Homo sapiens: one gene and its partner. The protein of the gene in region 1 interacts with the protein of each later gene in a biochemical or structural test. Each region holds a gene or a part of one and is shown on either strand. Other genes may lie near its edges.

What was found. The genes of interacting proteins can lie anywhere in the genome.
Region 2: the proteins of C4BPA (region 1) and TXN form a complex in vitro, tested with the Homo sapiens proteins (one study listed by BioGRID).

What each region holds. Positions count from the first base shown.
Region 1 is NC_000001.11:207,102,072-207,107,856, forward strand, and holds the start of C4BPA (C4b-binding protein alpha chain precursor), read left to right. Parts: upstream 1-2,161; 5' UTR 2,162-2,359; intron 2,360-5,785. UniProt on the Homo sapiens protein: Controls the classical pathway of complement activation. It binds as a cofactor to C3b/C4b inactivator (C3bINA), which then hydrolyzes the complement fragment C4b.
Region 2 is NC_000009.12:110,250,004-110,254,339, reverse strand, and holds part of TXN (thioredoxin), read left to right. Parts: intron 1-2,877; coding exon 2,878-2,982; intron 2,983-3,460; coding exon 3,461-3,520; intron 3,521-4,336. UniProt on the Homo sapiens protein: Participates in various redox reactions through the reversible oxidation of its active center dithiol to a disulfide and catalyzes dithiol-disulfide exchange reactions.

The DNA.
Region 1 (5,785 bases):
AACATAAAGAAAGATTTCTCTCACAATGTTGGTTGTAGTATTGGTTGATGAGGGAAAAGAACTAAGAGAAACCAACGAAAGGACTCCTACAATAGTCCATATGGGAGGCATTATCAACCTGAACTGGTTTGGTGGCAGCAGAAATGAAAAAGCAGCAGCAGACACGAGAGATATTGAAAACTTGTATCAAAACAACCTGTCAACTAATCAAACATTGAAGGGTGAGGGAGAGGAAGAGTTCAAAAGTGAATCTGAAATTTTATTCCCGAGAACCAGAGGTCAGAAAAAGCTGGGGTCAGAAAGTGAAGCTTGTTGGCCGGAAATGAGAAATTCCTCTTTGGATGTGCTGAGGGTGAAGTGCTTGCAAGATGTCCAGTGGGGGGAAAAAAAAAACAAAACCTAAGAAAGTAAGTCTTGAGTTTCGGAGAGTAATCAGAAATAATAATGTAGTGCTGGCTAGTCTTCTTACTGGTAATAGTTAAAGCTGTGACAGAAGGCAAGATCATTAAAATTGCGAAGATAATTTTTTTAAAAAAAGAAGAGCCTGAGATATATCTATATTTAGGAATGAGAAGGAGGAAGAGAAGGTAACAGTAACTAAGAAAGAGAAATTAGTTAAGTTAAGGGAATCAGGTAAGTTTAGTGTCATGGAAGCCAAAGGAGAAGAGAGTTTCAGAAAGGAAATGATCAGCAGTGACAAAGGCTGCAGACAGATCCTAAGAAATGAATTAAAGATATTTTGGACTTGGACCTAAGGGCGTGCCTCAGAGAGACATGTCAGTAGAAGAGTGGTAGAAGCCAGATGGGAAAGCAACAGGTGGAGTGATGAATGAGAAAGAACAGGCAGGTAGAACAAGTCACACCTTTGAGAAGTTCAGCATCACACTAAAGAAGAAAGGTGGAATTTGAGGTATTGGCAAAATTGAAGGGACATTTCAGGATGAGAGATGCATTGAAAATGAGGCAGGAAAAGAAGAAACAATTCTCCTCGGAATGAGGAGTGAATAGGAGGGAAAATTTGACATTGATGAAGCTAAGGTAGAATGATTTTTAGTAAAGTAGGAGGTAAGAGCATCTGCTGAGAGGGAATGTGACAATTTGGTGACCTGGAGAGAAAAATCTGCAAGAGTCACTGTGGAAAGTAAACGAAAGGACTTCAATACATTGGAAAACGGTACTTTAAAGAAATAGCAGCTTTAAAGGTGATATTTCTTCCAATTTAGTCTCAAGACTGTGCAATCTGGAATCCTCCTCTATCTTCATTCTGGTCAAATCAGTGTCTCACCTTGGTGACCTAGCGCATGGTTTCTTTACATCTAATATCCTTACCACTTTTATCTAATAATTTCTACCTTTTATCCAAATCTCACATCTTCTGTAGAAACTTCCTTGATTAACTCAACCTGTTGTAGTTTAGTTCCTTTTCTGAAACTCTTCTGGGACTTTCAGTATTTATTACAGAAAAAGTGAAGTTCTCAGAAAGAATTGCCTTTTAATAGCAATCTTCTGAGCACACAAATCTTAACCTTGAGGATTAGTAGCTTAATTGGACTATGTAAGTGCTTGTGGTCTTTTTAGATCTATGCGAGAGGAAACATGGCCGGTCCTTCATTGCGTTCTTCTGAGCGCACTGGATAGATCAATTTTTGGAGGCCCTCTGGTGCCTGACATGTAGTAGCAGTTAACATTTGCTGAACTCCAAATACGTTCTAGATAACTCAGCACATAGTGGAAACCCAATGCATGTTTGATAAATTCCCCACCTTTTGTAATTCCTTGGGGTGGGATAGAGACGAGCTCTGGGCAAGAATATCAGTTTTCAAACTCCAGGAAAGCATACTGGACCTAGTGTCATGGAAAGTGGATCATTTTTGCGGAGGCTCTCTGAACCTCGCAGTATCCAAGGTTTCCAGGCTAGCTGGACTGTGTCTTGCCATAACCCTTATGTGTTTATGAAAAGAAAAAAGAATTCTGGCTTCAAATTCAAATTACCTTTCCACTTAGGGGAAATGGTTGGCAGAGGAGAAAATAAACGATTGCGACATGTTACGAAGAATGAGGACTAGCAAAGAGGAAGGAGCTTAGGTAAACAGTGCTGCTTTATTTCTGCTGTTAATCATTCATTGGGCCCGTCAAAAGTTTCTGCCCATCTATTTCCATCAACCGTCCTTGACCAGCCAACCACATGGCTGAAATTCAGGGACTCTTTGGTGGAGCAATTACCAGTCAACTTCAGGGTATTATGATAAACTCTGATCTGGGGAGGAACCAGGACTACATAGATCAAGGCAGTTTTCTTCTTTGAGAAACTATCCCAGATATCATCATAGAGTCTTCTGCTCTTCCTCAACTACCAAAGGTCGGTGGACTACTAAACCCTTGGGGAAGCTTGGAGGAAAGGCTGGTGGTTTGGCCCTTTAAGGAGTGCAGGATTAGAAGGATAAAACAGAGACAAAAGCTTGGAGGTGTTTTCAGCAGAAATCTTTTCAGGAGCACTGTATTAGGGGGATGTAAGACTTGAGACGTACTTTAAACCCTATCTGAACCTCAAGTTTTAAAAATTATAAATGGAGGAATAATATTGCATTCTAATAAAATAAGCTAAAGAAGAAGAGGTGTAAGGTGTTGCTCTTGTTACTGTATCTAAAAGACAGATGTGTTGGTTTGTTGATCTTTCACCACCTTCCCACATCAGAGTTGAGGCAAGGGGTCAATCAGACTTTTCAAAGGGTTCACAGGAAGCTTGCTTTTCTTAGTCTACATTCTGAAAACTGGGGCCATTTCTATTTTGAGATTTGATTAACCACTCCAAATCTCCTCCACCACTGACAGCAAAGATGTTTAGATTTGGTAATAAGGAGGACACTGGCCAGCCTCCAGTTGGTTTCTGAAGCTAGCAGTCTTAGTCGTCCTCATCTTCTTTACTTTCTGAATTTGACGATGCTGATAACCCTTCCTTCTTGAAATTCTCTTCTTCCTTGGTTGGCCAGGATACAGTACCATTCTGGTCCTCATTTTAATTCTTCAACCACTTGTCTCTTTGCTGATTCCTATTCTATCTCTAAATATGGTAACACCAAAAGAATAAAAAGTAGACTACAGAAGAGGCAGAAGCATCAAAGAAGGTTGGCATTAAGCTTAGAGATATGTTTGAATGTAGTATGAGCACAGAATAAAGGGGCTGATAGAAAAATAAAGAGATTTGGCCAGGTACGGTGGCTCACTCCTGTAATCCCAGCACTTTGGGAGGCCGAGGCTGGCGGATCACCTGAGGTCGGGAGTTCGAGACCAGCCTGACCAACATGGAGAACCCCTGTCTCTACTAAAATTACAAAATTAGCCAGGCATGGTGGCACATGTCTGTAATCCCAGCTACTTGGGAGGCTGAGGCAGGAGGATCATTTGAACCAGGGAGGCAGAGGTTGGGGTGAGCTGAGATCGTGCCATTGCACTCTAGTCTGGGCAACAAGAGTGAAACTCCACCTCAAAAAAAAAAAAAAAAGAAAAAAAAAAGAGATTCTAGGAAGGGTGGGGAAAGTGTGGGAGCCAGTTCTTTCTGGAGTTTGTAAGTGATATAATTGAGAGCCCAGGTATAAGGAAGAAGACACTCAGCCCGAGACTGGAGAAAAATACTATCCTTTCACAAGGTATCTGCATTTTAAAAGGGGGAAGTTAGACAAAATAAATATTAACTTAAAAAGTAACTTCTCATGGAAGGAGAAATTTGAGGACTAAAGATTTTTCCAGTGACTCTCAAATTGCACTGCATTGCTAAGTGCTGATATTATTTTTCACAAGGGACCCGCCATGCTGACTAAAGTTCTTGAGTTGGTTCCATTTCTGCAGGAATTTAAAAGGTGAAGTCCTTGAAATATGAAAGTTGGCTAGAGTAGTCTCAGCTTTTCAGTGAGCAGTTACAGAATTGCAGAATTTGTTCATCTAGGTTTAATGTCATTATTTTAGAGATGGAGGGAACTGATATCCAAGAAGCTGATATAGCTTCTTCAAGATCACAGACTTAGACTGTGGTATTGCTGGAACTCCAACTTGTGTCTTCTCAGCTCGCAAGTTCTAGCCTCCATTCCCATACTCTGTGGCCAGCTGGTTTCTGCTGAGGGACCACCAGGAGTAGTTATGGTGAACTGCAAATGCCGTAGTTGGAGAAGAGTTAGGATGCATCCTGATGGTTTGTTAGGGAAGTCTAGTCACTGTATTATCTCTCTTCAAAACTGACAAAGCATTTCACACACATTATTTCATTTGGTCCTCAGTGAGACAGTCATTCTCATTCTAAAGATAAAATTAAATTGACTTTCATTCCTTTTAGATTTATTATTGTTTATTCTGTCTTATTCCTTCCTCCGTGTAAGTTTTTTTTTTTTTTTTGAAACGGAGTCTCGCTTTGTTGCCCAGACTGGAGTGCGGTGGTGCAATCTCTGCTCACTGCAAGCTCCGTCTCCCGGGTTCACAGGCCATTCTCCTGCCTCAGCCTCCCGAGTAGCTGGGACTACAGGCGCCCGCCACCACGCCCAGCTAATTTTTTGTCTTTTTAGTAGAGACAGGGTTTCACCGTGTTAGCCAGGATGGTCTCGACTTCCTGACCTCGTGATCTGCCTGCCTTGGCCTCCCAAAGTGCTGGGATTACAGGCGTGAGCCACTGCACCCGGCCTCCTCTGTGTAAGTTTTAAGCTAGTTAAATTCTGGTGCTCAAATTAGGTCTTTCTAAAGGCAGTGAAAGAAATCTCTGCGAAATAAGGAGGAACTCTTTTCTCTTCCTCTGCATCTGCAAAAAAGCAGATGATAATCTGCGTGATAAAACTGACCTTGCAAATGTTTTTTTTTAACAAAGGAGTCACGGGGTTATATAGACCAATTACAATACCACGTTAGAGATGGAAAGTTGAATAAACACCTTCCTTGTCTTCAAGGAATTCACAATGTATTTCGGGAGGCAAAAGCAAATAGATAGTTAGGATACAAAACAATGCTACAATTAAGGTATTAGCCAAGTACTAGAAGAACAGAAAACACTGGCATTTCATGATGAAGTCAGGCAATGCTTCACCAAGGAGGTGACATTTGATCTGAATAGTGAGTAAAGGAATAGTGAGTAAAGGAGAAGTTGGAGGTAAGAGCATTAATGCATGGGAGACATTAACTGCAAATGCTTGCAGGTGTTTTTTAAAAAAATCCTGGCTTTGTATGGTGGCTCACGCCTATAATTCCAGCACTTTGGGAGGCCGAGGTGGGAGGTTCACTTGAGGCCAGGAGTTCAAGACCAGCTTGAGCAACATAGTGAGACCCCTGTCTTTACAAAAAATTAAAAAATTAGCTGGGTGTGATGGCACGCTCCTGTGGTCCCAGCTACTGGGGAGACTGAGGTGGGAGCATCATTCGAGTCCAGGAGGTTGAGGCTGCAGTGAGCTGTGATTGCACCACTTCACTCCAGCTTGGGTGACACAGAGTGAGACCCTGTCTCAAAAAAGAAATCCAGAATGTTTTTGGGGAAGGGTAAGTGCCTCCTTGAGACTGAAGCATGGTGTTCTAAGTGAGAAATGATGGGAAAACTGGGACAGATAGGGGAACCTATGGAAACTGGGAACCATGAATGTTTTTAAGCAGAGTAACAACACATAAATTGCTTTTTAGGGACATAATGGCATCAACATGGAAGCTGGCTTATAAATGTTTGAAGGCTTTTGCAGTGGTCTAGGGTGAGGGGAAGGGAATTATAGGAACCTAAACCTGGACTATGGAAGTGGAGTGTTGGAGAGAGTGGCAGATT
Region 2 (4,336 bases), on another chromosome or scaffold:
CATGTTGGTCAGGTTTGTCTCGAACTCCTGACTTCAGGTGATCCACCAACCTCAGGCTCCCAAAGTGCTAGGATTACAGGCGTGAACCACCACGCCCAGCCTGTTATTTGTAAATGTTGAATACATGTTACATTTTCATCCTAATGGGCTAAATTTGCACCATTTGCCATTCAGAACAATTCTGTTTCTGAGGTACTCTGTTGGTGCTTTAGGGCCAACTGGGATCTATTTCAGAGAGGAATGGAATAATTGACTGTAAATGTGATGAGGAAGAAATAAACACTTTTAAAAAAAATGACACCTACCATTTATTGAACTCCCATCTACAAGGCACTTGGCTAAGTACTTCAGAAACCACTCACACTTATTACCCTCAGAGTAGGTATGTTGAGGCAACGAGATCTTAGACTCTTGCTCCTATTTACCCCAACTACACTGTTCTGCTTCCCCCAGATTATTGGTGTCAGTGATGGAGACATTTATTAATCCTGTTAGTTTCTGGGAGCTAGAAATTGTGATTTCTTCTTAGTAATACAATCTTGAATAATTTTCAAGCTGATACCCGTTTAGAAGTATCAGAAGAGAATTTGTACATGAAGCCTGCACATACGTGGGGTGTAACTCATGTTCAGTTAGGCTAAAAGTTATTGTTGCGTGCCTCTTTTCAGAATTTTAGGTACTTGTGCTTAAATTTGATTCAGAACTGTTTTGGAAAAGCCTTGAGTATGTTTGAAATACCTTCCCTCTTGAAAGTAATCTCAAGTTTTTAATAAGGGTTAATCATGTTAAAAAAACAAAAATGTCTATTCAACCAGACATTGGCATTTCTTGACCTTTTTTCCTGTCTTACCTGGATCTTGCAATAAAGGATGCCTGGTTTAACTTTCTTGAAAATCACATTAGGGAAGGCTTTGAATGAAATTGATCTGGAACAATAAGTGATGATTTGGAAAAACAATTGCTATACTTCTATGTACCCTGCTGCAGCTCTCCCCATGTCTCCACCTCTAGAGGTGGGGTTCAGGGATTTGCATAACTAAAAAATTTATGAAAGTGTTGTCCTACCTTTCTCAGGAACACCATTTGTGAATTATTTTCCCAAAAACGAGGTAGAAATTAGAAATCTAGAGAAGTAACTATTAGTACATGAGGTCATATTAGTGTTTTCTTGTTGGGTTTTTTTTTGTTTATTTGGTTTTTTATCTTATGGTTTTTTATTTATTTGATTTCTTTCTTTACGAGACCTCTTGTGGCGGTGGGGGGCGGGGAATGTTCATTTTTTTTTAAACCTATTTGACCAGCATTGTTTCCTTGAAGAAAACCTAGATTTCAGATACAGATGTTTATGTTTTGATTTATCTTAATTGCTCTGGTTTGGTTTTTGGGTTTGGTCAGCACTAACGTACTAATGTGGTTAAAATGAGTCCTTTGTTTTGGGAGGCCAAGGCGGGTGGATCACTTCAGGTCAGGAGTTCAAGACCAGCCTGGTCAACATGGCGAAACTCTGTCTCTACTAAAAATACAAAAATTAGCTGGGACTGGTGGCAGAGGCTTGTAATCCCAGCTACTCAGGAGGCTGAGGCAAGAGAATCACTTGAACCCCGGAGGCAAAGGTTACTGTGAGCCGAGATCAGGCCTTTGCACTCCAGCCTGGGCAACAAGTGAAACTCCGTCTCAAAAACAAAACAAAACAAAAATGAGTCCTTGGTAACTAGAATATTCGGTTCCCAGGGTTACAGTATCTAGATAGTAAATAATTCAGGGAAGTTAGTGGTAAGAGATTTCTTGATCATTTCTACTGAGAATTTTATTTAACAAGCATTCCTTATGAAAAATAATATCTATGAAAAATTTCCTTCATGAGGAACGAAAACTTTCATTTAATGAATGACAAGGGTATAGTTTTAAAATAAAGGGCAAAAATCAAAGGTTGGTAAACGTGTGATCTCAGCTCTGGAAACCCCATTATGCTTATGTCAACGGTGATGTCTGAGTGTTGAGGTTTGGGAAAGGTGAGTTTCCTTGACTTTTCAAAAAATTTTAGATTTTCGTATGGTCCACCATAGACAAATGAGTTTAATCAAAAGTCATAGCTTTTTTTTTTTTTTTTTTTTTTGCGACAGAGTCTCCGTCTATTGCCCAGGATGGAGTGCAGTGGCACAATTTTGGCTCACTGCAACCTCCGCCTCCTGAGTTCAAGCTATTCTCCTGCCTCAGCCTCCTGAGTGGCTGGGACTACAGGCATATGCCACCACGCCCAGCTAGTTTCTGTATTTTTAGTAGAGACAGCATTTCACCATATTGGCCAGGCTGGTCTCGAACTCCTGACCTAGTGATCCGCCCACCTCGGCCTCCCAAAGTGCTGAGATTACAGGTGTGAGCCACCATGCCCAGCCAACTTTTATCTTTAAGTAACTTGTGATGTTTCAATTGCAAAATCCTATGCCTTTGTGACTTCAAGTGACCCCTTTCATAATCCATAAGTGTTTAATGAATGTCTACCATATACCTAGCCTTGACATGGAAACATTTTTAATACAAATGTCTATTTTTATTTTCCTTTTGTTTGGTGTAGAGAAAAAATAGCCAGTTCACAATATTTTATAAAATAGTTATGAAGAGAATGTCAGTATACTCTACACATATCTTGTTTCATCTTATCAAGTAACACTACCAACAATGTATAGAATTTCTTCAAACTGAGTTTTATTTGGCTTGTTTGGGGATTTTTTTTTTTTTTTTTTTTTTTTTTTGGCTAAAAAGTAGGTCCTGAAAGGAGGACCTCCAGAATGTGCTTTGTGTCATTGTGTCGAGTCTTTCTTTTGAAGGTTTAATATTTAACTATTTATTTAATATAAGCTTTTCTTTTGCTGTTAGACTGCTTTTCAGGAAGCCTTGGACGCTGCAGGTGATAAACTTGTAGTAGTTGACTTCTCAGCCACGTGGTGTGGGCCTTGCAAAATGATCAAGCCTTTCTTTCATGTGAGTATTAAACAATGTCTGCTTTGTAAGAGATTTGTGTTTTTTGAGTTGGTGGTCACAGTGGTAGGAAAGAAAGACAGTTAAAGGATTTTGGTTTCGGTGGGGGGATTTCTTTGGCTGGATCTTTGGTCTAAAAGTAGTAGTATAACAAATAATTTAGGTTTGATACATGTAGCCCATTGAAAACAAATTTTAGAAGTTAATTTTGTCTTAAATAGTTCTTTTTTTCCCCACATTGAAACATGGGCCTTATTTGAAATCCCAGCCTCAGAATTTGATATGCCAAGCTGTTTTATACTAAGAAAAATTTGATTTAGAGAAAATTTATGTCTCTTAGATCTATGTCTCCAAAGATCTAAATTTTTGGATCTTTAATTAGTCTCTACTTTTATTAAGTTTCCATTTAAGAAGCTTGGGTATGTTGATTGCCATTACCTAGTTCTAAATCTTTTTGGATTTTTCATTTTAAATTTTCCAGTCCCTCTCTGAAAAGTATTCCAACGTGATATTCCTTGAAGTAGATGTGGATGACTGTCAGGTATGTAGCTGGAAATATGAGATACTGCTGAGCTTTTCACATTGGCCTTTTTCTCTGAATTGCACAGTGCTTTTTTCCATAAATATGTCAAATAATTCTAGAACTGTAATCCTATCTAAAAAGTTCTATCTCAGAAGAGCAGGCAAGTTAGGAGCTTAATCCTAGCTATCGGGAGCTGTATATCACATCCTAAAGTAAACAAAAATAAATGAGTGAGACTTCTGAATCTTATCGGCCACCCACCTTTCTAAAACCCTACATTCTACTTTACACTCTGAGATGTGCAATAAATGGAGATTGAATTTAGCTATGATCATTACATCCATAGGCTTGATGGAGTCACCAAATTATGAGACCGCTTGTAGGGCTCTTTGTGAACTTGCAGTAGCATGAGAACCTGCATTTGCAAGCCTATTCTAGTCTTGGTTGATTTTAGTCAATTAGAAACCACAAATGTTTTAACAAATAAACACCAAGGTACCTGAGAGAATAATTTGGAAGAAATTCCAGGGTTGGTTGTATTTAACAAATACTTGTTTTGCACTAGGTATATACCAGGCACTGTTCTGGGTGGTTTTTAAGTATCAGTTCATTTAATCCTGAGTGCTGTTATCATCCCCATTTTATAGATGAGAAAACTGAAACACAGAGGTTGTTCATGAAGTTTCAGTGAGTATGTGGCTGAACTAGGATTTAAAATGAAGTGGTCTGGCTTCCCAGCCCTTGACCTTAAGCACTACCCATCGGAGGATGCTCTGTCTTGTGGGTGTAGATCGGGTGCTTAGCACATGACCACAGACCTAGGAGAGCGGGTTG